Regions from separate parts of the Homo sapiens genome. Here all the other regions are linked to region 1. Evidence: fine-mapped expression QTL. A gene starts in region 1. Each other region holds a variant in brackets. All regions are shown on one strand. Distances are between the middles of the regions.

Region 1 (5,074 bases):
GGACTCAGAATAGGGAGTGCATGCTGACCGGTTTGTGAGTATGCAAAAAAGATGAAAGCAAAGACACCACTCAAAGGTGGGCACGGCAGCGTAGAAAACCAATTAGGAAAAAGTGGGTATATGTAAAACAGGCGAAATGTAGGAATCAATTAGGGGAAAGCACGCCAAACAAGTTCTCACTCTGGTCTGAGGATTTAACTCGTAGCTTGGCTTTCAGGCTTTAAACTGTCTTTGGCCTGGAGGTGGGGGTTTCACCGGGTACCTGACCCTATCTGCCTAGGCATCCAGCTGCCTCCTGTTGCTACCAGAATCACATTGAAAGTGAAACACGCTGGAAACTCTAAGGAAAAGAAACAAGTGTAACTAGGAGATAACAGGCACAGTGCAAAACAACATGTTAACTTTGGGGAAATCCGGCTTCTCAGTGTTTTTTTGGTTTTCCTACTTCTCTGCCAAATACAAAAATAAGCAGCTACTTCCATGGGACTCTCGTTAAAAAAAAAGTAACTTTAATAAGATCAGTGAAAACAATGCTTTGTTCTCCCACAAGTGGCTCAGGAGTAGCTTGCTAAGACACACTTTCTTCCCCGTGGGGCTGATGTCAACAGCCCATGCTTTTGCCCAAACAAAGGCCTCCTGGCACAAGGATGAGAGGCAAAACATCTGAGTCTCCGTAGCTGGCCTTATTCCAATTTGAGGGGAAGGGGCAGCCAGGAGAGAAAAATAACTAAGCTTTTGAAAGGCTTGAAGGAGAGTAAGGAATTACTAAATCTATTTTTTCTCAACAGAATAAAGAATTCTTGAAAGGGATAATGGAAGGGTGCAGCTTTCTATTTGAATTACTCTTTGTTTCACCCTATTCTGCCTAAGGCCACTGCCTTTTAGGCCAATCACAGAATCCCGGTTTTGCCTTTAGTTGCCCGCTGAGCGATGCAGTGGGAGTTGGGAGACCCACACTCAAGTGTTCTCTCTGTGGCCCGTTTCACCCGGTTTAAACTTGGACAAGTGGCTGAACTCTCCGGCCTCAGCTTCCTGCCTGTAAAATGAGAAGGCTCCCTAGATGCTCTCTAGACCTTTTCAATAACAGCGGAATAGGATTGGAGGCTCTCCAGTTCCCCCCCCGGGGACAGGTTAATCTTCAGCCACACTAGCCAAGGTGAGGCAGCAGCCCGCCCGCTCAGCAGGCACACACTGGGGCGGCGGCGCCTCCATTCCTGCTCACACTGCACGCCCACAACCTGCACCAACACCATCGCCTCAGAGACCAATTCACCGCGAAACCATCTCCCCGCTGCAGATCGTGTCCGATTAACATCTGCAAAGCTGAGCTGAGCATATGTAAGCAAAGAAAAAGCAAAACAAACAAGAGTTCTCTTTTTCCGGACCTCGGAATTTCTTTCAAATAAACTCAGAACTGAAAATTGTACGTCCCCAGCTAGAATACGAGGTCTCGGCTGGCCTTGCTTGCGAAAATGCATTAACAAGCCAAAAGGGGCTAGTGACATCTGGGGTGTCTGGGCACACGGACACGGGCCTCAGAGGCAAAGAGCAAGACCGCACTGGGCGACTCGTACATTCTTCCCGCAGGCTGAGGAGGCGACCAAAATATCCCCACAGAGGCAATCGCCGGAGTGCGGGGACAATAGTGCACCCAGCACTCTCTTTTTTTGAGGGGCACCCTTAGACCCTTAACCCAACCCACATCTCTAAGAGACCTCCAGGAGGTGAAGGTGAGGGGTGGTCCACTTCACCCAAAAGAATGCGCCACGGCCGGGGACCGACTCAGCCTGGAGTAACCTTTTTGTAGCTGCTTTCTTGTTTTGGTTTCCCTTTTTAAGTCTGGCAGTTTAGTCTGATGCCCAAGCGGTACCTTTTAAATGTCTCTCTCGCCCTCTTCCAGCAAGTGGCGCCTCTAGAGCCACTCCCTCCCCCGAGGCTGAGACAATGGCCCGGCACCGCAGGGCGGCCCCTAAGGGTATGCAGTGCGTCCAGCTCTCCGGGCAGGGCGCACGTGCGTTTGTTATGGTGCCTGTGCCCCCTCCGCTGCCGCGGGCCTCAATTTGTCGATCCGTAAACCCAGACTCTGCAAGGCGCAATGCCCCCACGCCACCCCACCCCATACTGACGGTGCCGTGGAGAAATCCGTGTTCCCCGGGGCTGTGCGCACGTGGGTTTGTTGTGGATCCGCAGGCTCGCGGAGCCAGAGAGAAGCCAGGGTGGCCCTTTGGCCCTGACAAAAATGCACACACCCCCAACCAAAAGGCGGCCAGCCCCGGAGCCAAGGCAGCTGAGGCGGAGCTGGAGAGAGATTCCCTGCGCCCTACGCGCGCCGCGGGCCCCGCGCCTCCGCTATCCTCCCGCGCCCCTTTGCATCACACTCCTCCCGGGATAGCCCGGGCCGCGCCGCCGCCCACCGCACCCCCTACTCACTCGCTGCACTCTCGGCCGCGGAGGCTGCGGTTGCTCAGCACGCTCGGTGGCGGCCGCCCGCTCCGCGCCCACGCCGGTCGGTATCGGCTCCCTTTGTTAACGCCGGGCAGTGCCCCAGGCGTCTTCCCCAGCCCGGCCCTGCCCAGGACTCCCCTCCCCCAGGTGACTCCAGAAAACGCGCTCGGCAAGGGCAGGATCGCCCGGGAGCTGGGGACCCCACTAGGGAGTCTCGAAAGAGGGGTCCGCTGGGGAAGAACGGGGGACAGAAGACGCACAGTGGAAGGGACTGGAGAAGGAAGGAAGAAGAGCGCGGCGGAGGGGCGGGAAGGAAGCGAGTCGCCTCCGTATGCAAATAGAGTTGCGAAGACTGGGTCGGTCTCCGCCCCCACTCCACCTCTCGCCACCGGCCACACCGCGCCCCAAACCGGCCTGGAGGTCGCTAGCGAGCGGGCTTGGGGTTAAAGACTCTTGATGAAGGCACTGGGTGATGCTAGAATCCTGCCTGCTCTCAAGGAGGGTGGATCGAGGGCCGAGTGGGAGGGGCCACGCGGCTGCGCAAGGACCCCTAAATGCCTCTTCCCCGCTTGGCCGCGAGGGGTCAATCCAGCAGTGTCCGGCTTTTGGTCCTAACATGCGGGTGCTGTACACCCGGTCTCTGCTACCGGCTGACTGCGAGACCCTGAGGAAGTCGCTTAACCTCTCCGAAGACTCGTGTTGCTCTTATCTAGAATAGGAAAGAACAAAATCTTTCACTGCGTTTGGCATTAACCTCCTAACATTGAGGCATGACTCCTACTGGGCGCTCTCAAATGGCAAATACAGAAGGAGAGGAGCGTCCTCGAACCCCTGCACCCAGAGGCTTCCACCCCAAGCTGCAGGCTGAAAGACTGAAGCCTCAGCCTGGATGGTGAAGGGAGCGAGGTTCTTTCTTTTCACCCGGACGACGGTGGGGCTGCTGGGGAAGGAAAGAGGATTAACCAAGCTGCGTACTGACCATCCCCGATAGCCCCAAGGCGATTTCCCTAAGAAAGAAAAACTGCCCAACAGGAGGGCGGAAGGGGCCTTTAAGGCCTCCAGTCCAGCCTCCCATAGCCCAAAGAGAGGATGTGACTACCAGAGGCAATAGTCATATCCCAGTTGTCTACTGAGTGCACACTAGGCACCAGGCTGTGTGCTGGGTGGGAAAGGGGAAAGGAAGGAGATACTGGAAGGTTTGGGGGTCCTCTGGGAACACAAAGTCCAGTGCACACTTAAAGTGCCTGAAGCCCAGGCCCAGAGTTCTGTCTCCAAATGAGGTGCCTACCCCACATCACCAACCTTGGAAAGGGAAGTTACATCCGCACCCTGTCCCCAGCACCCTTCTTCCAAACACTGCTTCCTCCCTGTCCTGATCCTGGCTCCCTTCTGCTGATACTGTCATTCCCTTCCCTGCTGCCCCTGAGGCATTTTTGCTCAGTACAAAGAGCTCCAATTGAAGGGAGTGCCAGCCAGAGTGAATTCAAATCTTTATGACCAACTCGCTGTGCCTTCTTGGGTGAGTTCCACATCCTGTGAGCCTCCCTTTCCTCTTCTGCAAAATGGAGATATTAAGGAAAGCGTTGTTTTCAGGATCCTGTGAAATGACCTACGTGAAACACGTAGCTTAGTGTTTGGCATATAGAAGGTGCTCCTGACAGTAAAATGTATGTATGCGTGAATGAATAGAAGCAGCCAAGTTCAGAAGACTATTTCTGGAAGGATGCTACATTGAAGATTTTAGGCCCTATTCGAAAAAGGGAAAAAAAAAAAGGAGGCTATTAAAAGATTCTGTGCAGTAGCATGACATGCATCTTTGTATTTTACAAGGATTCCTCTGGCACCACACTGGAAAATAGATGGCAGAAGCAGAGAATGCAAGAGACTAGATTGGAAGCTGACATCAATGGAGATATAATAAGAGCCTGAACTGTGTCAGTGACTGTAACAAGACAGAAGAAAAGGACATCTAAATAATAGCTACCATTTGGAGATCTGACATGGTTTGGCTCTGTGTCCCCACCCAAAAATCTCATCTTGAATTGTAATCCACATGTGTCAGGGGAGGGACCTCCTGGGAGGTGATTGGATCGTGGGGGGCGGTTTCCCCCATGATGTTTTTGTGATAGGGAGCTCTCACGGGATCTGGTTGTTTGATAAGTGTCTGGCATTTCCCCTGCATTCTCTCTCTCACCTGCCGCCATGTAAGATGTGCCCTGCTTCCCCTTCACCTTCCACCATGATTATAAGTTTCCTGAGGCCTCCCCAGCCATATGGAACTGTGAGTCAATTAAACCTCTTTTGTTTATAAATTACCCAGTCTCAGGTAATTTATAATTTTCTCAGTAGTGTGACAATGGACTAATACAGGATTCAAAGCACCTTATTTATTACATTGTCTCTCCTTTTCATCAGATAAGTAATGGTCTTAGTCCTATTTTATGGATTAGGAAACTGAAGTCATCTAGGAAGTGAAGAGAGAATTTGACACATTCTTCCACTTTCTTTGAAAGCTTTAATCATCTCCTTCATCATCACCCATATGTCAACATTACTTAAGAACTAAGAACAGCCTGGTGCGGTGGTTCACGCCTGTAATCCCAGCACTTTGGGAGGCCTAGGCGGGCGG
Region 2 (5,074 bases), 22 kb after region 1:
CCAGGCTGGTTTCGAACTCCTGATCCACCTGTCTCGGCCTCCCAAACTGCTGGGATTACAGGTGTGTGTGCCACTGCGTCAGGACCTCTTTTTTCACTTTTAAACAACAGAATATAGAATATAATCCTAGGTTATTAGTTTTGAATTTATTTATGTATCATTCTAACATACAAATCCACTTGGAAATATCTATAAGCATGCTCACAAATTTTAATTTTATTTCTAAATGGTGGGATATGGAGGTAATTTATTGTTTTCTTCTTTCTACTTTTCTGGATATCATGTTATCACTTTGGTTAAAAAACAAAAAAAGCCCAACAACCATTTTTTTGAGCAAGAGAAATGGGAAACTTGTTTAAATTCGCATAGATTGAAGCTGGGATGGGAACTCGTATCTTCCAAACTTTAAAAACTACGAACCTGGCCGGGCATGGTGGCTCATACGTGTAATCCCAACACTTTGAGAGGCCGAGACAGGTGGATCACTTGAGGTCAGGAATTCAAGACCAGCCAGGCCAACATGGTGAAACCCTGTCTCTACTAAAAATACAAAAATTAGCTGGGCATGGTGGCACATGCTGTAATCCTAGCTACTTGGGAAGCTGAGTCAGGAGAATCGCTTGAGCCCAGGAGGTGGAGGTTGCAGTGAGTCGAGATCACACCACTGCACTCTAGCCTGGTTACAGAATGAGACTCACTCTCAAAAAACAAATAAATAGGCTGGATGCGGTGGCTTACACTGGTAATCCCAGCACTTTGGGAGGTCAGGGCGGGAGGATCACCTGAGGTCAGGAATTCGAGACCAGCCTGACCAACATGGAGAAACCCCATCTCTACTAAAAATACAAAATTAGCTGAGCGTGGTAGCACATGCCTGTAATCCCAGCTATTCAGGAGGCTGAGGCAGGAGAATTGCTTGAACCCGGGAGGCGAAGTTTGCAGTGAGCTGAGATCGCACCATCGCACTCCAGCCTGGGAGACAAGAGTGAAACTCCATCTCAAAAATAAATAAATAAATAAATAAATAGAAAGAAAAAGAAAAACTATGAACCTTACTGCTCTCTTACCTCCCATACCCTGAGGTTAAGGAACTTGAAGACTTAATATGATTAATAAATTAATATGCCAGAAATTACGATGCATTTAAAGTGCTTGACACAGTGTCCAGCAAGTAGTGCATAGATGTTCGCTGTTATAATAATGGTAATTATCTTTATTTAATACTATAATATGATATTAAAAATGTTATGATAGGCCAGGCGCAATGGCTCATGCCTGTAATCCCAGCACTTCGGGAGGCCGAGGCGGGTGGATCACCTGAGGTCAGGAGTTCAAGACCAGCCTGGCCAACATGGGGAAACCTCGCCTCTACTGAAAATGAAAAAAAAATTGGTGCTGGCAAGATGGCCGAATAGGAAAAGCTCCGGTCTGCAGCTCCCAGTGAGATCATGCAGAAGGCAGGAGATTTCTTCATTTCCAACTGAGGTACCCAGTTCATCTCACAGGGACTGGTTGGATAGTGGGTGCAGCCCACGAAGAGCGAGCCAAAGCAGGGTGGGGTGTAGCCTCACCCAGGAAGCACAGGAAGCACAAGCGGTCGGGGGATTTGCCTCCCCTAGCCAAGGGAAGCCGTGAGGGACTGTGCCGTGGCCAACAGAGCACTCTGGCCCAGATACTGTGCTTTTCACATGGTCTTTGCAACCTGCAGACCAGGAGATTCCCTCCAGTTGCCCATGCCACCAGGGCCCTGGATTTCAAGCACAAAACCGGGTGGCCGTTTGGGCAGACATTGAGCTAGCTACAGGAGTTGTTTTTTCATACCCCAGAGGCACCTGGAATGCCAGCGAGACAGAACCGTTCACTCCCCTGGAAAGGGGGCTGAAGCCTGGGAACCAAGTGTTCTAGCTCAGAGGGTCCCACCCCCACGGAGCCCAGCAAGCTAAGATCCACTGGCTTGAGATTCTCGCTGCCAGCGCAGCAGTCTGAAGTTGACCTGGGACATTCAAGCTTCGT[C/G]GGGGGAGGAGCATCCGCCATTGCTGAGGCTTGGGTAGGTGGTTTTACCCTCACAGTGTAAACAAAACCGCCAGGAAGTTCAAACTGGGTGGAGCCCACCGCAGCTCAGCAGGGCCACTGTAGCCAGACTGCCTCTCTAGATTCCTCCTCTCTGGGCAGCACATCTCTGAAAAAAAGGCAGCAGCCCCAGTCAGGGACTTACAGATAAAACCCCCATCTCCCTGGGACAGAGCACCTGAGGGAAAGGGCAGCTGTGGGTGCAGCTTCAGCAGACTCAAACGTCCCTGCCTGATGGCTCTGAAGAGAGCAGTGGACCTCCCAGCACAGCGTTCGAGCTCTGATAAGGGTCATACTGCCTCCTCAAGTGGGTCCCTGACCCCTGTGTATCCTGACTGGAAGACACCTCCCAGTAGGGGCCGACAGACACCTCATACAGGAGAGCTCTGGCTGGCATCTGGCAGGTGTCCCTCTGGGACAAAGCTTCCAGAGGAAGAAACAGGCAGCAATCTGCTGTTCTGCAGCCTCTGCTGGTGATATCCAGGCAAACAGGGTCTGGTGTGGACCTCCAGCAAACTCCAGCAGACCTGCAGCAGAGGGGCCTGACTGTTAGGAGGAAAACTAACAAACAGAAAAGAATAGCATCAACATCAACAAAGAGGATGTCCACACAAAAACCCCATCCGAAGGTCACCAACATCCAAGACCAAAGGTAGATAAATCCATGAAGATGGGGATAAACCAGCACAAAAAGGCTGAAAATTCCAAAAACCAGAATGCCTATTCTCCTCCAAAGGATCACAACTCTTTGCCAGCAAGGGAACAAATCTGGACGGAGAATGGGTTTGACGAATTGACAGAAGTAGGCTTTAGAAGATGGGTAATAACAAATTCCTCCGAGTTAAAGGAGCATGTTCTAATCCAATGCAAGGAAGCTAAGAACCTTGAAAAAAGGTTAGATGAATTGCTAACTAGAATAACTAGTTTATAGAAGAACATAAATGACCTGATGGAGCTAAAAAACACAGCACCAGAACTTCGTGAAGCATACACAAGTATCAATAGCCTAATCAATCAAGCAGAAGAAAGGATATCACAGATTGAAGATGAACTTAATGAAATAAAGTGAGAAGACAAGATTTGTTATAATTATCATTATTTAATACTATAGTATTTTCAAAGAATGAAAAGAAACAAACAAAGCCTCCAAGAAATATGGGACTATGTGAAAAGACCAAATCTACGTTTCATTGGTGTACCTGAAAGTGATGGGGAGAATGGAACCAAGTTGGAACACACTCTTCAGGATATTATGCAGGAGAACTTCCCCAACCTAGCAAGGCAGGCCAACATTCAAATTCAGGTAATACAGAGAACACCATAAAGATACTCCTCCAGAAGAGCAACCCCAAGACACACAATCGTCAAATTCACCAAGGTTGACATGAAGGAAAAAATGTTAAGGCAGCCAGAGAGAAAGGTCGGCTTACCCACAAAGGGAAAACCATCAGACTAACAGCGGATCTCTCAGCAGAAACCCTACAAGCCAGAAGAGAATGGGGGCCAATATTCAACATTCTTGAAGAATTTTCAACCAAGAATTTCATATCCAGCCAAACTGAGCTTCATAAGTGAAGAAGTAAAATCCTTTTCAGACAAGCAAATGCTGAGAGATTTTGTCACCACCAGGCCTGCCTTACAAGAGCTCCTGAAGGAAGCACTAAATGTGGAAAGGAACAACCGGTACCAGCCACTGCAAAAACATACCAAATTGTAAAGACCATCGACACTATGAAGAAACTGCACCAACTAACAGGCAAAATAACCAGCTAGCACCATAATGACAGAATTAAATTTACACATAACAATATTAACCTTAAATGTAAACGGGCTAAATGCCCCGATTAAAAGACACAGACTGGCAAATTGGATAAAGAGTCAAGATCCATCAATGGTGCTGTATTCAGGAGACCCATCTCATGTGCAGAGACACACATAGGCTCAAAAGAAAGGGATGGAAGAATATTTACCAAGCAAATGGAAAGCAAAAAAAAGCAGGGGTTGAAGTCCTAGTCTCTGATAAAACAGACTTTAAACCAACAAAGATCAAAAGAGACAATGAAGGGTATTACACAATCGTAAAGAAATCAATGCAACAAGAAGGGCTAACTACGCTAAATATATATGCACCCAATACGGGAGCACCCAGATTCATAAAGCAAGTTCTTAGAGACCTACAAAGAAACTTAGACTCCCACACAATAATAATGGGAGACTTTAACACTCCACTGTCAATATTAGACAGATCAATGAGACAAAATTAACAAGGATATTCAGGACTTGAACTCAGCTCTGGAACAATAGACCTAATAGATATCTACAGAACTCTCCACCCAAAATAAACAGAATATACATTCTTCTCAGCACCACATCACACTTATTCTAAAATTGACCACATAATTGAAAGTAAAGCACTCCTCAGCAAATGCAAAAGAACGGAAGTCGTAACAGTCTCTCGGACCACAGTGCAATCAAATTAAAACTCAGGATTAAGAAACTCACTAAAAACCACACAACTACATGGAAACTGAACAACCTGCTCCTGAATGACTACTGGGTAAATAATGAAATTAAGGCAGAAATAAAGATGTACTTTGAAACCAATGAGAACAAACACACAACATACCAGAATCTCTGGGACACATTTAAAGCAGTGTTTAAAGGGAAATTTATAGCACTAAATGCCCACAAGAGAAAGCAGGAACGATCTAAACTTTACACCCTAACATCACAATTAAAATAACTAGAGAAGCAAGGGCAAACAAATTCAACAGCTAGCAGAAGACAAGAAATAGCTAAGATCAGAGCAGAACTGAAGGAGATAAAGACACAAAAACACCTTCAAAAAAATAAATGAATCCAGAAGCTGGTTTTTTGAAAAGATCAACAAAACAGATAGACTGCTAGCCAGACTAATAAAGAAGAAAAGAGAGAAGAATCAAACAGAAGCAATAAAAAATGATAAAGGGGATATCACCACTGATCCCACAGAAATACAAGCTAC
Region 3 (5,074 bases), 62 kb before region 1:
ATTGCACTTGGATTTTATCTGGATCCTAATTTGAATACACAAACTATTTTAAAACTATACACACCCATATCTATATACATACACTCAAACACTAATATATACACATACACACATATATATATAATAATTGAGGAAAATTGAATATTGACTCCATATCTGGTATTAAGGAATACTTACTTACTTACTTATTTGAATGTGATAATAGTATCTTGTAGTTTTTATTTTTAAAGGGTCTCTTTTTTTTTTGTTTTTGAGAGGGAGTCTCACTCTGCTGCTCAGGCTGGAGTGTGCAGTGGCGTGATCTTGGCTCACTACAACCTCCGCCTCCTGGGTTCAAGCGATTCCCCTGCCTCAGCTTCCTAAGTAGCTGAGATTACAGGCGCCCACCATGCCTGGCTAAATTTTGTGTTTTTAGTAGAAACGGAGTTTCATCATGTTGGCCAGGCTGGTCTCAAACTCCTTGGCCGCCTTGGCCACCCAAAGTGCTGAGATTACAGGTGTGAGTCACTGCGCCCCGGCCTATTTTTAAAGGGTCTCTATCTTTTAAATATACATACTGAAATATCTACAGCAAAAATGAAAAAATAAACAGCTGAATTTGAAGTCAGTTAAAATAACATCTTATTTTGTATGACTATTCATGTGCAGTAAATGAAAGTTAAACAAACAAAAAGTCCCCCCACTTTGAATCACCTATGAAATACAGAATATATGGTCTGTTTATACAGCCCTGAACACTCATATAAAATTCACTCAGTGAATCTAACACAGCTGTGTTAGACTCCAGCCCTGAAAGGGATCAGGATGTGCACCAGAAGAAGTAATTGTCTTCAGTTTACTACCATGTTACACTAAAAAGACAAACATTTAAATACTGGGATCACACCTGGACCAACAAGCTGCTCACCCTACAGAGACTGAGAGAACTCGAATTCATGTCTCCCCACCTGCACTTGTGGGCTTTCAGCTGATCAAGAGGCTGTCAGAACTGTGGGCATTATTTCAATTACTCTCTCTTTCTCTCTCAATCTCTCCACTTTAAAAAAGTTGCTGAGTAGAGCTGAATCGACATATTTTTCTCCTCCAAGGTGAAGCTGTACTAGGCTTCTACTAGTTGATATTTAAGGATTGAAGACAATCTCATCCCAACACATAGAAATATGTGGAAGGCAAGGAGCCTGCCGAGTGCTTCAGGCCACAGAGACCCTCTCTGATGACGAAGTAGAGCCATGTCTACCTACATGCAGCAGCAGAGAGCCCACCATTCAATTGTTATTATGATGATGATTATTATCATTATCATCATTGTTATAAGTATCGCTTACATAACGTAATGTGCTAGGTTTTCTCTTTTATTGTAAATCTTCTGAGTAATGCTGTGGGTTGATTATTTTACAGGTGAAGAGGCTGAAGCTCAGAGGAATCAAATGATTTTCGAAAGACCACACAGCTAGAAAGTGACAAAACCAAAATTCAAATCTAGTTTCCCAGGCCCACCCTTTTCTTTTCTAGCATGCTGCTACTCCTGGTTGGAAAGAAGGGCTTTAAGGCACAGTTATTTACCTAGGCCTCTTAGTTTTCTAAAACATATAAATAAATAAATAAATAAATAAATAAATAAATAAATAAATAAATAAAACTCTGTCAAGTTATCTAACTGAGAAGCAGAGAAAAACTGCACCCCGTGATGCCAAGGGGTAGCTTCTGCAAATCTGCACCTCTGTTTAGTTTTGCTTCCAGCTTCTCTGGCCACCATTATGTCTTCCATCTCGCTAACACGCTTGAGAGAACAGGACAAGACATGCTTGACTTTTTTGTTTAGAATGAAAGACGTACAGGTGACCCTATGCCAAAAACGGGAAATCTTAACTCCATCGGGTCATT[C/A]TGGCCACTTAAGAACCAGACTGGATGTTTCTGAGAGTGAACTATCAAAGCATGTGCTCAGCCCAAGGGCCACCAAACAGGGCCCACCAGCAGTGTGCCCTCGAATTAGATTCCTTTAAGAACTTGTTATTTCAACTCCCCATGCAGGTGTTTATCGAGTACCTGCAAAGGCAGCCCCCACCCGAAGCTAAACGCACTAGGGACACAAACACTCAAGTCAGAGTTGCAGCCCACAGCTATGGCCAGGAGACAGAGGAGGGGAGTGATGGGAGGGAGCGGGGAACAGCTGTCCTCTGTCACAGGATCTAGCTGCCGTCAATCCAGGAAGAACTGCACGGGACAGGCAGTGTTAGGCAAGTTAGTAAACAGTTTGCCTCATAAACACTGACCAGCAGTGGAAAATATCTGACCTAGATAGATAGTGGACTGTGAGCACCTTAGGGGCAAGGACCACGTCTAATTTGCTTTTCTGTTCTCAAAAAAGTAGGCCTCAAATATTTGTTGTTGTTGTTTTTGAGACAGAGTCTCACTCTGTTGCCCAAGCTAGCGTACAGTGGTGAGATCTCAGCTCACTGCAACCTCTGCCTCCCAGGTTCAAGCGATTCTCCTGCCTCAGCCTCCGAGTAGCTGAGATTATGGGTGCCCGCCACCACATGCAGCTAATTTTTTTTGTATTTTTAGTAGAGACGGGGTTTCACCATGTTGGCCAGGCTGGTCTTGAACTCCTGACCTCAGATGATCCACCCGCCTTGGCCTCCCAAAGTGCTGGGATTACAGGCGGGAGCCACCGCGCCCGGCCATGTTTTATTTATTTATTTATTTATTTTTTAAGGTCATGATTGTATTAGTCCATTCTCACACTTCTGTGTGAGAACTGCCGGAGACTGGGTAATTTATAAAGGAAAGAGTTTTAATTGACTTGCAGTTCCACATGGCTTGGGAGGCCTCAGGAAACTTACAATCATGGTGCAAGGCAAAGGGGAAGCAAGGCACCTTCCTCACAAGGCAGCAGGAGGAAGTACCAAACACTTAAAATACCATCAGATCTTGTGAGAACTCACTCACTATCATGAGAACAGCATGGGGGAAACAGCCCCCATGATTCAATTCCCTCCACCTGGTCTCTCCCTTGACATATGGGGATTACAATTCAAGATGAGATTCTGGGTGGGACACAGCCAAACCATATCAATGGTCATGTACTACATTTAGAATTTTGGAAGGTATTTATGGCGGGATACTGAAACTGTTTTCACGTACCACAGCAGAGTCTGAAGGGCTCAGTTTGAAGAACTGGATTCCCAACCTCAGGATCGATTTGGCCATATGGGAGGTCAGCTGGAGATGAGGGAGACTGAAAATTGGAGATAACCCCAGAGATGACGGGCAGGTTACCCTCTGTCCTCAGATGGGAGGGGAGGTGGCTGGGGAAAGGATTCCAACTCTGAGTTCTATTGTGGGAAGGTGAGCAGAGTCAAGCTCTGTGGCTCAGTGGAACTTATTCCTGCCCACAAGCTCAACATCTCCACCTCTGCCCCCAGCAGTGGAGTTATGACAGCAAAGGAGACAAGGTGAATAGGGATCACCCCAGAGGATCAGTATGGGATGAGGCCAGCCGGTGAATCACCCACGCTCCCAAGGAACCCACGCCACAGGAACACACACCTCCAGGTGAGACTCGGAGAGGCCAGAGGAGATAAACCCTTGGGAGAGTGAGTGAAATGGCCTGTATCAGTCCATCCAGGGAGGAACCAGAGACACCCTTTGACTCAATGTGTGGAAAGAACCAGCAAGTCTGACATAAAAAGTGTATCAAATAAGAGGTCATTTAGTATCAGGAGCCAAAGCCTCCCTGATCCCCAGTGTGAGTTAGGAACCCTTCCCTGTGCTCCCACAGCACCCTGTACAGACCCCAAGACAGCGCCCCTCACAGTTTCTATGTCCGTTTCCTCTATTAGGGCATGACCTTTCAGAGAATTAGCAACCATCCTAGCCTTCTCTGAAGCCCAGGCACCTACCACACCGCTAGGCCCAGGTTAGGTCCTAAGAAATGCCTTTTGTATGCCCTGAACAAATGAATCATGAATGAGGCATCTCTGGGAGAACCACACTCCACCCAAGGGAAAATAAATACCTGGCCTGGCTGAAAAGTCAAATCACAGCAAGTCCAAAAGAAGGCAACTAGCCAGGTGCTATCTGTCTCTCCCACATCATAAAAGAAATGCTTCAGTGGAAAAATCCTGACCACATGAGAAAAAGAAAAAAGTCAGTTAGCTACCACCAAGCACAAAGGGTAGAAGCCTGGCAAGCTGATTCACGCCAATACTGTGAAACCCGGCCCAGCGGTCTGCAGACAGCCTGGAAGCAGGGGTGGAGGAGGTGGGGAGGCGGACAAGCATGAGAGGGAGTGAGGAGAACTTACTGGAACAAGCATCTAGGTCAGCTGCTCCTGGGTAATGCCAGAAGCTGGTTTATATCCTTTTTTTTTTTCTTTTTTGAGATGAAGTTTTGCTCTTGTTGACCAGGCCGGAGCGCAATGGTACGATCTCGGCTCACTGCAACCTCTGCCTCCCGGGTTCAAGCGATTCTCCTGCTTTCTACCTCCTGCTTTATTTTCTTTATTGAAATTTTTTAGAGGAAATCAAAAAAAAAAAAAAAAAGAACATCCTGTAGGAAGGGATTGGTCTAAGAGGGAGGGATGGGAGAAGGCGGCTGGGGTTGAGGTGAGGTAGAGAACTCTCCTCAGCCCCAGCCAAGGAATTCTTCACACCAAGTAGCTACCCACAGATGACTGAATATAGTCATCAAGTCTATCAATAGTCTATGCCTATCATCACAAATATTAACACCATGGACTGAACATGAACACATGCTAGTGCTGTGCTGCTGGGCAGTTTCTCTCGCTCTAATGATCATTAAGAATCTGGCAGGTGGAAATGAGTCACCTGCATTCAATAGATAGAGATGAGAAGCTTTAGGCCAAGCTTGGTGGCTCACACCTGTAATCCCAGCAATTTGGGAGGCCAAGGCGGGCAGATCACTTGAGGTCAGGAGTTCGAGACCAGCCTGGCCAATATGGTGAAACCCTGTCTCTACTGAAAATACAAAAATTAGCCAGGCATGGTGGAATGTGCCTGTAATCCCAGCCACTGGGGAGGCCAAGGCAGGAGAATCGCTTGAACCTGGGAAG
Region 4 (5,074 bases), 140 kb before region 1:
TGGGACTACAGACGCCCGCCACCACGCCCGGCTAATTTTTTGGGGGTTTTTTTGTATTTTTAGTAGAGACGGGGTTTCACCTTGTTAGCCAGGATGGTCTCGATCTCCTGACCTCGTGATCCGCCCACCTCAGCCTCCCAAAGTGCTGGGATTACAGGCATGAGCCACCGCGCCCGGCCGGCCCTCATTTTCTGATCGGTGAAATGGGAATAACACATTTGCTCTGCTCTCTCAAATATGAGCTGTCTTGCGGATCAAATGGAGATCATGAGTGAATGAGAAAGAAAAGTAGCCCCAAAGGCTTAAGAATGAAGGGAGCCATGTCCCTCTTAAGAAAGCCAGAATTAATATATGAAATCAGCTGTCAACATTCACCTTAAAAAGCAGGCGGGAGATGATGTTGCCCAGGTAAAAATTGAGAGGAATAAATGGCAGAAATCAAATCAAGAACTGACTGAAACGAAAGCAAGAATCATGACAATAATCCCTCTCCACCTCAGTCTACATCGCCAAGGCTGAGACCTAATCAATGTCACTGCAGTATCTGGAAAAAACTATGGCAAGAGAGACGGCCTGTGTGCAACCCAAAGAATAGCAAGCAATCTGCCACGAGCCTCTACAATCACTGAGCTATCCCCATGCCCATACCTTCCTACAGATGTAAGGAAGTTCCTGGAAGCCTGAAGAATATACTCTCATTTCCTCAATATATCTTTGAGACAAGAAATATTGGTGGTCGGTCTACCTTGGCTGGAGATTGTGCAGCTATACTGGGTGCTAAGGAGCCAAAGGAAAGACACAGTCCCTGCCCTCCAGGAGGTCACAGGGTAGTGGGAAAGGTGGACAATTGAACAATGGTTAACACGCTGTGATGGTGCAACAACAGAGGTAGTATGAGGATGGCCATAAAGTGAGCGAGTGTTGGGCCGGGTGCGGTGGCTCACACCTGTAATCCCAGCACTTTGGGAGGCCGAGGCGGGTGGATCACAAGGTCAAGAGATTGAGACCATCCTGGCCAACATGGTGAAACCCCGTCTCTACTGAAAATACAAACATTAGCCGGGCATGGTGGCGGGTGCCTGTAGTCCCAGCTACTCGGGAGGCTGAGGCAGGAGAATCACTTGAACCCAGGAGGCGGAGGTTGCCGTGAGCCAAGATTGCACCACTGCACTCCAGCCTGGCAACAGTGAGACTCCATCTCGAAAAAAAAAAAAAAAAAAAAGAGCAAGTGTTAGGGGGCAAAAAAGAAGATGCCAAGCAGAGACTGTAAGCATGAGAGAGGGGGTGTCTGAGACACGGGGAACCACGTGCAAACCCCTGAATGTGTGAGTGTGTGGCAGAGACTGCCAGATGTTACCCAGCATCCATTCGCTATTTCTTCCTTGACCACCAACACCTCTGGTTTTTACTTTTGCACATGGCAACCTAAAATAGACTCCCTGAAATAAAAAAATTTCATAGCCTCTCTTATAGATAAATATGGCTGGGTGACTAATTCTGGCCAATGGAATGTAAGCAAGTGTGGCTTCCAGGAACTATCCTTAGAGGCAAGGTTATGCCTTTCCTTGTTCCTTCTTCCTCCTGGCTGAAATGTGGATGTGATGGCTGGAGCTTGAGCAGTCATTTTGGACCATAAAGTGGAAGTCATATGCTGAGAACGGCAAACCCACAAAGTAGAAAGAACTTGGATTCTGACACTGGAACACCATATTAAGTTTGGAATGTCTACTTTTGGACTTCTTTTGCATGAGAGAGAAATGCATTTTTTGTTTTGTTAAGCTAGTGTGGGGGGATGTGTGTTCCTGTCTCTTGCAGGAACAACTAGTACAGTGTGTACCCTGTTTGGGAATTGCAAGTAGTTCAGTATGGCTAGGATACAGAGAAAGAGCTGGAAGAGATCAGAGAAATGTAGACAGAGGCCAAGCCAGGGAGCTTAGGATTTCTTCAGTAGGTTATGGGGACCAGGAAAGGGTTTTAAGTAAGGAAGATCTAAACATGCTAGAGTTCTGAATTAGTGTTTTTAGAAAAAAGAAGACCACAAAGAAGCTCCTGTTGTCACCTAAGAAATAATGGAGTAAAGAAAAGAAGTTACAATTGTCGGCTGTAGATGTGAAGACTAATTGAATGTTGAGAGTGAGGGAAAAAGGGGACCAAGGGGACTCCTGGACCTCAGGCCATTTCCTGCATAAGAACAGAGAAAAAGGAACAACTGGTATATGCCTGTGGGAGTAAGGTGGGGTGGAAATTTGAAGTTCAAGGATGAGGGCTGGGCTCACTTGAGGTCAGGAGTTCAAGACCAGCCTGGCCAACATGGCGAAACCCTGTCTCTACCAAAAATACAAAAATTAGCCAGGCGTGGTGGCAAGCACCTGTAATCCCAGCTACTTGGAAGGCTGAGGCAGGCGAATAGCTTGAACTCAGGAGGCAGAGGTTGCAGTGAGCCAAGATCGTGCCACTGCACTCTAGCCTGGCGACAGAGCGAGACTCCGTCTTGAGAAAAAAAAAAAAAAAGAAGAAGTTCAAGGATGAGACTACTGGCCAGGAGTTCCCTGGCTGACAGGCCATAAGAACTAAGAACAGAACCCACATCTTGTAACTTTTAAGTACTGTCCTCCTTCCACTGGGAACGTTGTAACTTAACAACAGCCCTTCAGGTCTATAGTCCAAGGGCAGAGCAGGCTTCCTGCTAGATGGGGATTTGTAAGATAGACGTGACTGAGCTGGTGACAGGGAGGCCTGAGGACAGAGGGCCAGTACTCCCTATCCTCATCCACCCTATTCCCCTGAAAACAGCTGTTATATTAAAAGCAAAGTGTCTTTTCTTTAGCTATGCTTCTTTCTATGCAGAGTACTGATGCCAGGTGATATATACATACTCATGAGGAATAGCAATAACTGGGATTTT[T/A]AAAAAATGTCTCCCCCTGCTATAGCCCCTTTCCAGCAATTTTGAGTATGCAAAGCAGGAGGCCAGCAACTCCTGGCTCCCTGAGACTTTCCCAGCTGTGGCTTCACCGTCCTCAGAAATTCCAAGAGATGCACGAAGCTTTCTTCTTTACAATATGTGAAAACAACAGACACCATTTAATGATGCTTACTACATGCTAGGTACTGTCATACCTCAACTCAGTTTATCTTCACAACAGCCCTAGGAAGTAAGTGTTAATATGTTCATTTTATGATTAAAGAAATAGAGATGCTAAATGCTAAGTAACTTGTCCAAATTACACAGTCAGTAAGTAAGAGAGTCTGAATTGGATTCTTAGGTCTAGCTCCAGAGACCACACTTCTTTTTTTTTTTTTTTTTTGAGATGGAGTCTCGCTCTGTTGCCCAGGCTGGAGTGCAGTGGCACGATCTTGGCTCACTGCAACCTCCGCCACCCAGGTTCAAGTGATTCTCCTGCCTCAGCCTCCCAAGTAGCTGGTACGACAGACATGTGCCACCACACCCAGCTAATTTTTTGTATTTTTAGTAGAGATGGGGTTTCACTGTGTTAGCCAGGATGGTCTTGATCTCCTGACCTCGTGATCCACCTGCCTCGGCCTCCCAAAGTGTTGGGATTACAGGCATGAGCCACCACACCCGGCCCAGAGACCACACTTCTAACCTATGTGCTATAATGCCTCACATAATGTGGGCAGGGTAGGGTACCACAGCTCTTGGGGAAGGACGTCAGAGAACACTGGATAGGAGTATGGAGTGTCAGGAGAATTTGCTTCTTGCCTGAGTTGTAGTATGTCACAGCTGGATGATACTCAAGGTATTAAATTCAGACCCATCATTTTCCAGATGGGTAAACTGAGGCCCAGAGAGACAAGAGAATTGTCTAAGGCTACGATGAGTTTGTGGCACAGTTAGAACCAGAGCCCAGAGGCAGGCTCCTAACAGATATTCTTTCTGCTCCAGCAGGACTACACCCATAAAACCATCAGACATTCAAATAAGCAAGCACACCATGAGGGTCAGGTCACCCTCAGTCTTCCTGTATCCAATGGAAAAACAGCCATTCACTTGAGCTACTTGAGATGAATGAGACAGTAATCCATGAAAATAGAAACAGGTGAAGATGAATGATAGTTTTATCCAGAGAAGAGAAACAGAAAGTGGCTGGGGCTGGGATCTGGTTGAGGGATAAGGGAGAAGCCAGCAAGCACTCCCCTCCTGGAACTTTACACATGGCTCTGAACTCACCCACATTAACACCATCTATATGAAGTTCAAAGATTTTCTACCAAAAAAAAAAAAAAAAAAAAAGGTTGCCTTGCCAGGTGCAGTGGCTCACACCTGTAATCCCAGCACTTTGGGAAGCTGAGGTGGGCAGATCACTTGAGGTCAGGAGTTCGAGATCACCCTGGCCAACATAGTAAAACCTCGTCTCTACTAAAAATACAAAAATTAGCCAGGCGTGGTGGCGGGCACCTGAAATCTCAGCTACTCAGAAGGCTGAGGCAGGAGAATCGCTTGAACCCCGGAGGCAGAGGTTGCAGTGAGCCAAGATCGCACCACTGCACTCCAGCCTGGGTGACAGAGACTCTGTCTCCAAAAAAAAAAAAAAAAAAAAAAAAAAGAAAGAAAGAAAGAAAAGAAGATTGCCTTAAAACTGGATGGGGAATTGGAAGCATGGGTTCCAGTCCTGCTCTGTGTCTAACTCACTCCATGGTATTAGATGGACCATGTCACATCTCCTGGCCTCAGGTGCCTTATTTAGACATAACCACCTTGTAAGGCCCTGCTGAGGGGACCAGCTGTTCCTGGAAGAATAAAGCTGTTCTCAAACGCCTGTACTTACCTGCAGGGGGAGTGTGACCTGGGTTTGGAGATCCTCTTAGGGGGCAGGGGAGGAGTTCATGCTGAGAATAAGTCATTGGCAGAGCAGCAGAGCCCTGGGGAACATCTGCCAGGAAAAGGCTACACCAGGGCATGGAGTGCTGCTGCTCAAGACACTGTTTAAAGTAACCTTCTCAGTTAGAAAGTAACAAATACTCACTGGGGACAGTTAGAAAATGCAAGAATAGAAACACACACACACACACACACACACACACACGCACGCACGCACATCTTCAGATATTACCA
Region 5 (5,074 bases), 49 kb after region 1:
AGGGTTAAATGGATTAAGGGCGGTGCAAGATGTGCTTTGTTAAACAGATGCTTGAAGGCAGCATGCTCGTTAAGAGTCATCACCACTCCCTAGGAAAACCAGAGACCTTTGTTCTCTTGTTTATCTGCTGACCTTCCCTCCACTATTGTCCTATGACCCTGCCAAATCCCCCTCTGCAAGAAACACCCAAGAATGATCAATTAAAAAATAAAATAAAATAAAATAAAAGACCTAAACATAAGAGGTGAAACCATAAAACTCTTAGCAGGCTGGGAGTGGTGGCTGAAGCCTTGTAATCCCAGCACTTTAGGAGGTCAAGATGGGCAGATGGCTTGAGCCGAAGAGTTTGAGACCAGCCTGGGCAACGTGGCAAAACCCTGTCTCTACAAAAAATACAAAAATTAGCCTGGCGTGGTGATACACACCTGTAGTCCCAGCTACTAGGGAGGCTGAGGCAAGAGGATTGCTTGAGCCTGGGAAGACAAGGCTGCAGTGATCCGTGATCAAGCCATTGCACTCCAGCCTGGGAGACAGAGAGAGACTCTGTCTTGAAAACTAACTAAATAAACAAATAAAAGCAAGAATCTAAATTGGCACTTCTGCAAAGAAGATACACAAATGGTCAGTAACCACAAAAATAATGCTCAACATCATTAGTTCTCAAGGAACTGCAAATCAAAACCACAATCAGATATCACTTCACACCCACTAGGATGGTTATAATTTAAAAGACAGATAAGAGCAAATGTTGATGAGAATGTAGAGAAACTGAAACTCTCATGCACTGATGCCAGGAAGGTAAAATGGTACAATGCCTGGGTGACAGAGTGGAGAATCTGTCTCAAAGAAAAAGAAAAATCTTGAAATCGTGTCTTGTGACTTTGGAAAACAGCCTGGTAGTTCTTCGAAATGTTAAACATAGTTACCATTCCTAGGTGTATGTATACCCAGAGAAATGAAAATATATGCATACACAAAAACTTGTACACAAATGCTCTTAGCAGCATTATTCATAATAGTCCCAAAGTGAAAACAACCCAAATGTCCATCAACTAATGAATGGACAAATGTAATGTAGTACAGTAGTGCTTCTTCTCATCCGCAGTTTCACCTTCTGCAGTTTCAGTTACATACAGTCAATTGCATTGGGAAAATGTGAAATGAAAAACTCCAGAAATAAACAATTTATGAGTTTTAAATTGTGCAGGCCAGGTGCAGTGGCTCACTCCTGTAATCCCAGCATTTTGGGAAGCCAAGACAGGCAGATCACTTGAGGCCCAGAGTTCAAAACCAGCTTAGCCAACTTGGTGAAACCTCATCTCTACAAAATATACAAAAAGTAGCCAGGCATGGTGGCGCATGCCTGTGGTCCCAGCTGCTTGCGGGGCTGAGGCGGGAGGATTGCTTGAACCTGGGAGGCAGAGGTTGCAGTGAGCAGAGACTGAGCCACTGTGCTCCAGCCTGGGTGACAGAGTGGAAACGCTGTCTCAAAAAAAAAAAAAAAAAGTTTGAAACTGTGTCTTGTTCTGAGTAGCATGATAAAATCTTATGTCATCCCACTCCATCCTTCCCAGGAAGTGAATCATCCCTTTGTCCTGTGCATCTATGTTCTCTATAACACCATTAGTCACTTAGTAACTATCAGATTGACAGTTACAGTATCACAGTTCTTGTATTCAAGTCACCCATATTTTTCTTGATAATGGCCCTAAAGCACAAAAGCAGTGATGCTGGCATATTTTTATGAATTGTTCTATTTAGTTATTGCTGTTGTTAATATCTTACTGAGCCTAATTTATTTTTATTTCTATTTTTATCTTATAATTTATAAATTAAACTTTATCCTAAGTATCTATATATAGAAAAAAACATAGTATATATAGGATTTGGTGCTATCTGTGGTTTCAAGCATTCCCTGGAGAACTCGGAACATATGCCCCCCAGATAAGAGGAAACTACTGTGTATCCACATAAGGGAGTATTAAGCAATTGAAAGAAATAAAGTACTGGTAAATGCTATAACATGGATGAACCTTCAAAACATTATACTAAGTGAAAGAAGCCAGTCGTGAAACATCATAGTGTAATGCATTACATGAAATGTCCAGGCTAGGCAATCTATAGGAACAGAAACTAGATTAGTAAAAGCTAAGACTGGAGGATTTCAGAGGAAATGAGGAGTAGCTGCTGATAGGTATGAGGTTTCCTTTGGGGATGATAAAATTCGTCTAAAATTGGTTGTACTGATGGTTTCACAATTCTGTGAAACCCAAAAAGCATTGACTGGCAGGAGAGGGGATTCCTTTAAACGGGTGAATTGTGTGGTATGTAAACTATATTTCAATAAAGCTCTTACAAGAAAAAAAAAAGATGGCTATGACATGATTCTTGCTTTGGAAGAGCA[C/T]GACTCAGACATTTTGAATCCTCTGCATTCCTATAAAAATTTCTGAATTGTTTTAGTGTCTTCCAATAAAAGAGGAAACAGCGGGTACAGAAGAGAATCAATAGAAACATCCACTAAAATATAAAAAGGATTACAAAATAAAAGAGTTTCACCAACACTCCAGGCAACGGGGCTAGAGATTAACATCAGCTCTATTTATACTGTTTGCGCATAATTGCATATGGTTACACATGCTTAAGTTGACTAAAAATTACATCTAGGCCGGGCACGATGGCTCACATCTGTAATCCCAGCACTTTGGGAGGCTGAGGTGGGCAGATCACTTGAGGTCAGGAGTTCGACGCCAGCCTGGCCAACATGGTGAAACCCCATCACTACAAAAATACAAAAACTGGCTGGGTGCGGTGGCTCATGCCTGTAATCCTGGCACTTTGGGAGGCCGAGGCTGGCGGATCACGAGGTCAGTAGTTCGAGACCAGCCTGACCAACATGGTGAAACCCCGTCTCTACTAAAAGTACAAAAATTAGCCAGGTACGGTGGCACATGCCTGTAATCCCAGCTACTCAGGAGGCTGAAGTAGGAGAATCACCTGAACCTGGGAGGCAGAGGTTGCAGTGAGCCAAGACTGCACCACTGCACTCCAGCCTGGTGACAGAGCGAGACTCCATCTCAAAAAAAAAAAAAAAAATTATCTGGGTGTGGTTGCGTGCATCTGTAATTCCAGCTACTGGGAGGCGGAGGCACAAGAATTGCTTGAACCCAGGAGGCGGAGGTTGCAGTAAGCTGAGATCGCGCCACTAGACTCCAGCCTGGGTGATGGATACTCTGACTCAAAAAAATTTAAAAAAATTATAAAAAATTACATCCAGGTCAGTGATTCTCAAACCTTGGTGTGCTTACCTGAAGAGCTTTTAAAAACACATATTGCTGGGCTCCACCCCAAAAACTTCTGATTCGATAGGTTTGGGATAGATCCCAAATTATTTGCATTTCTACAAAGTTCCCACGCTGATGCTGCTGGTCTGAGAACCGCTTGGAAAACTACTGGCTCAGATCTTTTCAAGATGTCATTCTCAGCTCATCTTCATCTCATTAGGTTAAAGAAGTCCTCTAGATGTTGGGAAAGTCAAGACGCACGAGACAGGCTTCCTGACAATGGTAGCTAACGCTCTGGCACTCAGAGAGGGCAAATCAGATGCACCAGGGCCTCTTCTACTTGTTAAAACTACATCTTACACCATGTTGCTTCCTATTATAACAGTAGCTGTTGCAATTTTGTTCATTCTGCCTCATATTGCAACAAAGAAGATTCTGGAGTAGCTTTTTTCTGTTGGCGCTTATTGAGAGTGGAGGAAAATAATGAAAGCCATCGCCCCTAATCACAAGGCATCAAAGCTGTTTTTAGGGGCATGTTTCTCAGCAAGATTTCCTCGAAGAGAAACCAAGGGCTTGGTCATCACTAGAACTTCACCTCTGAAATCTTACCTCACATCTGCAAATCATTCTCTCTCTCACTCACTCTCACTGTACCTTCTTTTTCTCTTTGCATTTCTGTTATGTTTGTTTCCTCCTTTCTACCAATCTGTTGAATCTGTGTAGGCCTCCGTGGCTGTACCCATTGTTGAATACCTAAGCTATTTTCACAGGCCTCCTAGGATCCAGCACCCTACCTGTCCAATGCTAAATTAGTGCTATAACCACCACTTTTCCAGTCCTACACCCGAGCCCTTTGTTTTACCCTCTCAATCTTCTGCCAGACTAGAGAGGGACAGTCATCATGCTGCAGGTTTAGAGTAGAATTGAAACCAACTTGTCTTTTTTAAGCCCATATTTACTCCTATTGCAAGAGATACTTGGTGCTGCCAATTCCTGAAACTTTTGTGTGTTTTGGGAAACATATATAGTACTTCTTTGCATTTTCCCTGCCAGCTTAAGAGTAACTTTTTCAGTCTGCTAAATCATTATCATTAGTTATGCCTGCAAGTTGTTATTGCCCCTGTCTACCCTCTTCTTCATTTGCTTTTGTGCAAACATTTATGCTTTTTAAAAAAATTTGCTGTTGTTTTAGTGGAGTTTGGAGAAACAGCAGAGGCAAATACATGTGTTAATTTCAGCATCTTTATCAAAAGCCTTGCATGTTTCCTCCTAGAGAGAGAGAGTGTGTGTGTGTGTGTAATGATTGTGAGATTCATCAGACTGATGTTTGTGGCTTTAGGCCATTCAATATTACTATTTTACAGTATCCTATTGTTTGACTATATAAAACTTTATTCATTCCTTTTTTGATGCACATTTGGGTTGTTTCCAAGTTTTGCTCTTACAAAACAATCTGCTATAAAAATTATTGTGTGTGTCTCCTTGTACACCTGCGTGAGAGTTTCTCTTAAAATGGTGGAAGATAGAATGGATTGTAAACTATAAGCCTCTTCAGCTCTGGCAGATAATATGAAATGGATTTCCAAAGTGATTTGATCAACTTACACTCCTACCAGCAATTAATAATGACTTTACACTTATGTTAACCCTTGGTATTATCAGATTTTTAAAATTTTTGCCAATCTAGTGGGTTTAAAAGGAACAAATGATCATTGGTGGATGCAAAAACTATTGCTTGTAAATTGCAAAAAGAAAAATGGACCACTACAATGGAGAGATCTGTCTGTCACCAC
Region 6 (5,074 bases), 91 kb before region 1:
GAGGTCAGGAGATCAAGACCATCTGGCTAACATGGTGAAACCCCCGTCTCTACTAAAAATACAAAAAATTAGCCAGGCGTGGAGGCATGCACCTGTAGTCCCAGCTACTCAGGAGGCTGAGGCAGGAGAATCACTTGAACCTGGAGGCGGAGATTGCAGTGAGCAGAGATCATGCCACTGTACTCCATCCTGGGTGACACAGCGAGACTTTGTCTCAAAAAACAAACAAACAAGCAAAACATGTATATATGTATATATATAAAACATATATATGTATATATATACCCAAAAGGATCTAAGTCCTGGTAGTCTAAGGGAGTTGGAGGTGAGGAAATGAATAGGGAAGGTTGAGTTCTTCTACTTTGTGGTGGCCCCGGGGCCTGTAAGAAAACTTACACCAATACTCATGCGATAGGTTCATTCTTTTTTTTTTTTTTAATTATTATTATACTTTAAGTTTTAGGGTACATGTGCACAACGTGCAGGTTTGTTACATATGTATACATGTGCCATGTTGGTGTGCTGCACCCATTAACTCATCATTTAGCATTAGGTATATCTCCTAATGCTATCCCTCCCCGTTCCCCCCACCCCACAACAGTCCCGGTGTGTGATGTTCCCCTTCCTGTGTCCATGTGTTCTCACTGTTCAATTCCCACCTATGAGTGAGAACATGTGGTGTTTGGCTTTTTGTCCTTGCCATAGTTTGCTGAGAATGATAGTTTCCAGCTTCATCCATGTCCCTACAAAGGACGTGAACTCATCATTTTTCATGGCTGCATAGTATTCCATGGTGTATATGTGCACATTTTCCTAATCCAGTCTATCATTGTTGGACATTTGGGTTGGTTCCAAGCTATAGGTTCATTCTTTCAGCAAATGCTGATTGCCTACTGTGAACCAGACTGCAGACACAGCAGTAGAGAAGCCAGCCAGAAATCCCTAACCCCTCCAGCACTCACCTTATAGTGAGGATAAATAAAGAGTCAAACAACATAAATCCGTGGTGCTTTGCAAGGAGATAACTGATATGCAGACAATTAGAGTAGGGAAGAGAAATAGGGACAGCTTGGAGTGGGTGAGGTGGAGATTTAAATCAGATGATCAGAGAAAGCCTCACTGAGAAGAAGACATTTGAGCAAGGGTTGGAAGGAGGTGTAAACCAAAAATAAAATCCTAAGCCCCCCACTAACCAACTGAATGGACTCCTTTTTGGCCATGGGCACCCCAGAGAAACCTGAAAAACTGAATTCCCAGCCATGACAGAAAGGAGGTTACACCCTCATCATACCCCTCCCTTTTGGGGTTTAGGTACAAGTGACCAGCATTAAGGTAAAATAGAGATTATAAGACTGACCAAACAGACCCTTTATGACAATAAGATACCAAACTATACACAATACCTAAGGCCATAAAAGGCAAAGATTAAGTCATACCCTAGAAACAATACAGTCTCATTAAATGGGTTTTTTAATTAACCCAGTAAAATGTGGCTTACTCTCCAACCTGACTCTGGTATAGTATCACATGACAGACAGCAGACTCTGAAGGAAATTAAAATATTTTGCCCCAAAATACATTTCTTTGACATATTTGGAAAAGGCTGCCAGACAGCCTTTGGACTGCAAAGCCATCTTTGGTGGGGGAAACGTGCATCTCCAGAGAATCGATATTAATGTCTCTTCCCTTGCTAGGCCTTTCCCAGATCTAGGAGAGATTCTAACTGAGAGTCAGACACCCAAAGGTCTGAGAAGAGACAATCACTATCTATTCACCCAGAGGGCTGCTATCTATGAGGCTCCAAGGACCTAGGCCCCCACAACCTCCTTATCTTACTCAGGCATTCCTTCCTACTGACTTCAAGTCACTAGACAATAACTTGACTCTCTCAGCTACTGTTAGCTAAAGAATCCCTAAAACGCACTTAAGACTTGTAAGGCCCCTCAGCCCTCCCCTAACCCTCTACCCCCCAAGTCCCTGTGTAGGGAAAACTCTCTGTAGCCATCTTTCCTCTGCTCTCACACCACAACAATCAACACAGAAGATGACTTATGTGACCATATGTGTGGGGGTCCCACCCCAACACCAAGCAGCGACACCAGCTTGGTGTCCTCTAATTCAGTTCCAACACTATCTACCTGGAAATAGTGTCAGATCCTACAGATTGAGGGCTTAGTGTCCAAGACATCCCCCCTCCACCAGTCACAAGTCCAGGCCTCCAGAACTTCTTTCTGACCAACCAGCTTCCATTGGGGTTCCCCTCTCCGTGGGTTCAATTAATTTGCTGGAGCGGCTCACAGAACTCAGGGAAACACCCTACTTACATTTACTGGTTTATCATCAAGGATGCTGCAGAGGATACAGATGAAGAGATGTGTAGAGCAAGGTATGGGAGAAGGGATGCAGAGCTTCCACGCCCTCCCTGGTTGTGCCGCCCTA[C/T]AGGAACCTCCTCCTATTAAGCTATCAGAAAGTTCACCCAACCCTGTCCTCTTGGGTTTTTATAGAAGCTTCCTTGACGTCAGCATTTCTTCCCCCAGGGCATAGGGTAGGAACCTCTCATGGGAAGGTTTTTTTTTTTTTTTTTTTTTGAGACAGAGTCTCGCTCTGTCGCCCAGGTTGGAGTGCAGTAGCATGATCTTGATTCACTGCAACCTCTGCCTCCCGGGTTCAAGCAATTCTTCCTGCCTCAGCCTCCCGAGTAGCTGGGATTACAGGCGCCCACCATCACACCCGGCTAATTTTTCTATTTTTAGTAGAGACGGGGTTTCACCATGTTGGTCAGGCTGGTCTCGAACTCCTGACTTCAGGTGATCCACCCACCTCGGCCTCCCAAAGTGCTGGGATTACAGGCATGAACCACTATGCCTGGCCTCATGGGAGGGTTGTAAGGCCCACAGTCAGGCCAGAAAACATAAAAACCTTGCCTTGGGGCAGGTGAAAGGACGGCAGGAGAGAGACTGTTTCTTAGGGCCTGTCCCTGAAGTCTAAAAAGCCCAGCATTCTAGCAAGACTGTAGCAAGGGCTATGGGGCTATGCGCCAGGAAACATGCATGGAAACCAACACATAGTCCAGGCATGATGGCTCACGCCTGTATTCCCAGCACTTTGGGAGGCCAAGGCAGGTGGATCACGAGGTCAGGAGATCGAGACCATCCTGGCCAACATGGTGAAATCCCATCTCTACTAAAAATACAAAAATTAGCCGGGCGTGGTGGCATGCTCCTGTAATCCCAGCTACTCAGGAGGCTGAGGCAGGAGAATCACTTGAACCCAGGAGGCAGAGGCTCAGTGGGCAGAGATCACGCCATTGCACTCCAGCCTGGGTGACAGAGCGAGACTCCATCTCAAAAAAAAACAAAAAAAAAAACCACCAATACATATATCCTAACACCGCACCCTCCCCCACTTTGAGATGTCTCACATTTTTTGGACAGAACTACCAGTTACCTTCCATGTACTGATTTCCAGATATCCTTGCCTGTAATGCCTGTCTCCCTAAAATGTATAAAACCAGACTATGGCCCAACTGCCTCAGGGCCACTCACTCAAGGCTTCTTGGGTTTGTGTTTTCTCTAAGCTACAGTAACTCATATTGCCTCAGGATAAACTTCTTGAAAATATTTTACAGAATTTGGTTTTTCTGTTAACAGAGATGAAGGAGGCTACCATGCAGATTTCTGAGAAAAGAGGGTTGCAAGTAGAGGGAACAGCAAAATACCTACACAGGGGCAGCCAGATAATGTGGCGCCTTACACAGGTGTAGGGGTTTTGGCTTTCATCTGATTAAGACTTTGCCGATGTATGTTTCAAAGGCATCACCGGATGCTGCCTTAAGAATCAACTGTAATGAACAGCAGGTCTTATAGATGTTACCAAATTTAATTCTTACCACCACCCTGTGGGGTGGGGTATTAACAATCCTCTTTTTTAAATAAAGAAATTGAAACTCAGAGAGTTTAAGTCATTTGCTCAAGATGTCACTGTAAATGGTGAAACCACGGTGTGTTTTGTTTTTTGTTTGTTTGTTTGTTTTTGAGACAGAGTCTCGCTCTGTTACCAGGCTGGAGTGAAGCAGTGCAATCTCGGCTCACTGCAACCTCCACCTCCCAGGTTCAAGCAATTCTCTGCCTCAGCCTCCCGAGTAGCTGGGATTACAGGCACCCGCCACCACGCCCGGCTAATTTTTGTATTTTTAGTAGAGACGTGGTTTCACCATCTTGGCCAGGCTGGTCTTGAATTCCTGACCTCGTGATCCACCCGCCTCAGCCTGTCAAAGTGCTGGGATTACAGGCATAAGCCACCATGCCCGGCTGACCAGATTATTCTAACCAACAAACTGGTAGTGCTCTTCATCCTATGTCCCTCTACTCAGGCCCTTCCAAGGGCTACTGCGAGCCTCTCTGCTTTATCACACCAACTACAGTTGCTAATCACTGTATTGACCTTCTGGTGACACCTATTTACTCTGCCCTGATCTTCATCTCCTTAATCTTTAGTGCACAAACCTCACCCTCATCTGGACCTTAGAACCCAAACTTTCTGTTCTTAGACTTAGAGTGCTTGACACCCTGTTGCCCCCAGAGGGTGGCATAGTGCCTCCGAGAGGGGCTCCATGTGTCCTGGCTGCCAGAAACCCTCTCCCATGAAGGACTCCCATTTCTCTAAGAGCTTGGATTCTTAATGTGTGCCACCTGAGCTGCCACTTAATGCTGACCCTTCTTTCTCTTTCCTCATATCAGGGATAGCTGGCTGCCCCACAAGAAGTTTGCTCCTTCTGCCATATAGTTATTGCTGTAAATTACTGTCCAGAGAGGGATTGCATTTTACACACACACAAACACACACAGCATATAGATGGGATCATTTTACTAGTTATTGGCAAAGAAATGTGAGCAAAAATAACATACATCACTTCTGGGCCAAGATGGTTAAGACGTGAGTTTATTTGCTCTAGCAGCTAGCATTACCCTATAGAGCTACTCAATAGAGACTTCCTGAATATTTATTTCTATGGTTTAAAACCATCAACAGAATATTCAGCTATAGATTTTTCATATCTCCTCATCCCAACATT

The links.
Region 2: its variant is fine-mapped to the expression of ST6GAL1 in naive CD8 T cells (Schmiedel 2018, PIP 0.95).
Region 3: its variant is fine-mapped to the expression of ST6GAL1 in skeletal muscle (GTEx, PIP above 0.99).
Region 4: its variant is fine-mapped to the expression of ST6GAL1 in whole blood (TOPMed, PIP 0.96).
Region 5: its variant is fine-mapped to the expression of ST6GAL1 in fibroblasts (GTEx, PIP above 0.99).
Region 6: its variant is fine-mapped to the expression of ST6GAL1 in platelets (CEDAR, PIP 0.95).

The regions. Positions count from the first base shown.
Region 1 is chr3:186,928,191-186,933,264 of GRCh38, reverse strand. ST6GAL1 (ST6 beta-galactoside alpha-2,6-sialyltransferase 1) reads right to left here and starts at 2,739. Exons shown (of 8, transcript NM_173216.2): 1 at 2,431-2,739. RefSeq lists enhancers at 293-352, 373-422, 2,516-3,124 and silencers at 2,319-2,508, 2,749-2,828.
Region 2 is chr3:186,906,328-186,911,401 of GRCh38, reverse strand. No RefSeq gene overlaps it. Among named protein-coding and RNA genes, the nearest start is that of ST6GAL1, 22 kb to the left of the region's middle. RefSeq lists enhancers at 1,079-1,773, 1,792-1,841, 1,912-2,011, 1,774-2,469. The variant C/G (reference allele first, on the strand shown) is at 2,014.
Region 3 is chr3:186,990,121-186,995,194 of GRCh38, reverse strand. All of the region lies in intron 2 of ST6GAL1 (ST6 beta-galactoside alpha-2,6-sialyltransferase 1), which reads right to left. LOC124906314 (a long non-coding RNA gene) reads left to right here and starts at 243. Exons shown (of 3, transcript XR_007096208.1): 1 at 243-3,555. RefSeq lists a silencer at 4,060-4,354. The variant C/A (reference allele first, on the strand shown) is at 1,885.
Region 4 is chr3:187,066,573-187,071,646 of GRCh38, reverse strand. The region is part of intron 5 of ST6GAL1 (ST6 beta-galactoside alpha-2,6-sialyltransferase 1); the gene reads right to left. Among named protein-coding and RNA genes, the nearest start is that of RPL39L, 70 kb to the left of the region's middle. RefSeq lists a silencer at 4,837-4,886. The variant T/A (reference allele first, on the strand shown) is at 2,906.
Region 5 is chr3:186,879,502-186,884,575 of GRCh38, reverse strand. No RefSeq gene overlaps it. Among named protein-coding and RNA genes, the nearest start is that of ADIPOQ-AS1, 21 kb to the right of the region's middle. RefSeq lists enhancers at 3,518-4,018, 4,019-4,519. The variant C/T (reference allele first, on the strand shown) is at 2,405.
Region 6 is chr3:187,019,255-187,024,328 of GRCh38, reverse strand. All of the region lies in intron 2 of ST6GAL1 (ST6 beta-galactoside alpha-2,6-sialyltransferase 1), which reads right to left. Among named protein-coding and RNA genes, the nearest start is that of ST6GAL1, 91 kb to the right of the region's middle. RefSeq lists a silencer at 22-111, an enhancer at 2,078-2,347, a cis regulatory region at 2,350-2,443 and a promoter at 2,350-2,927. The variant C/T (reference allele first, on the strand shown) is at 2,440.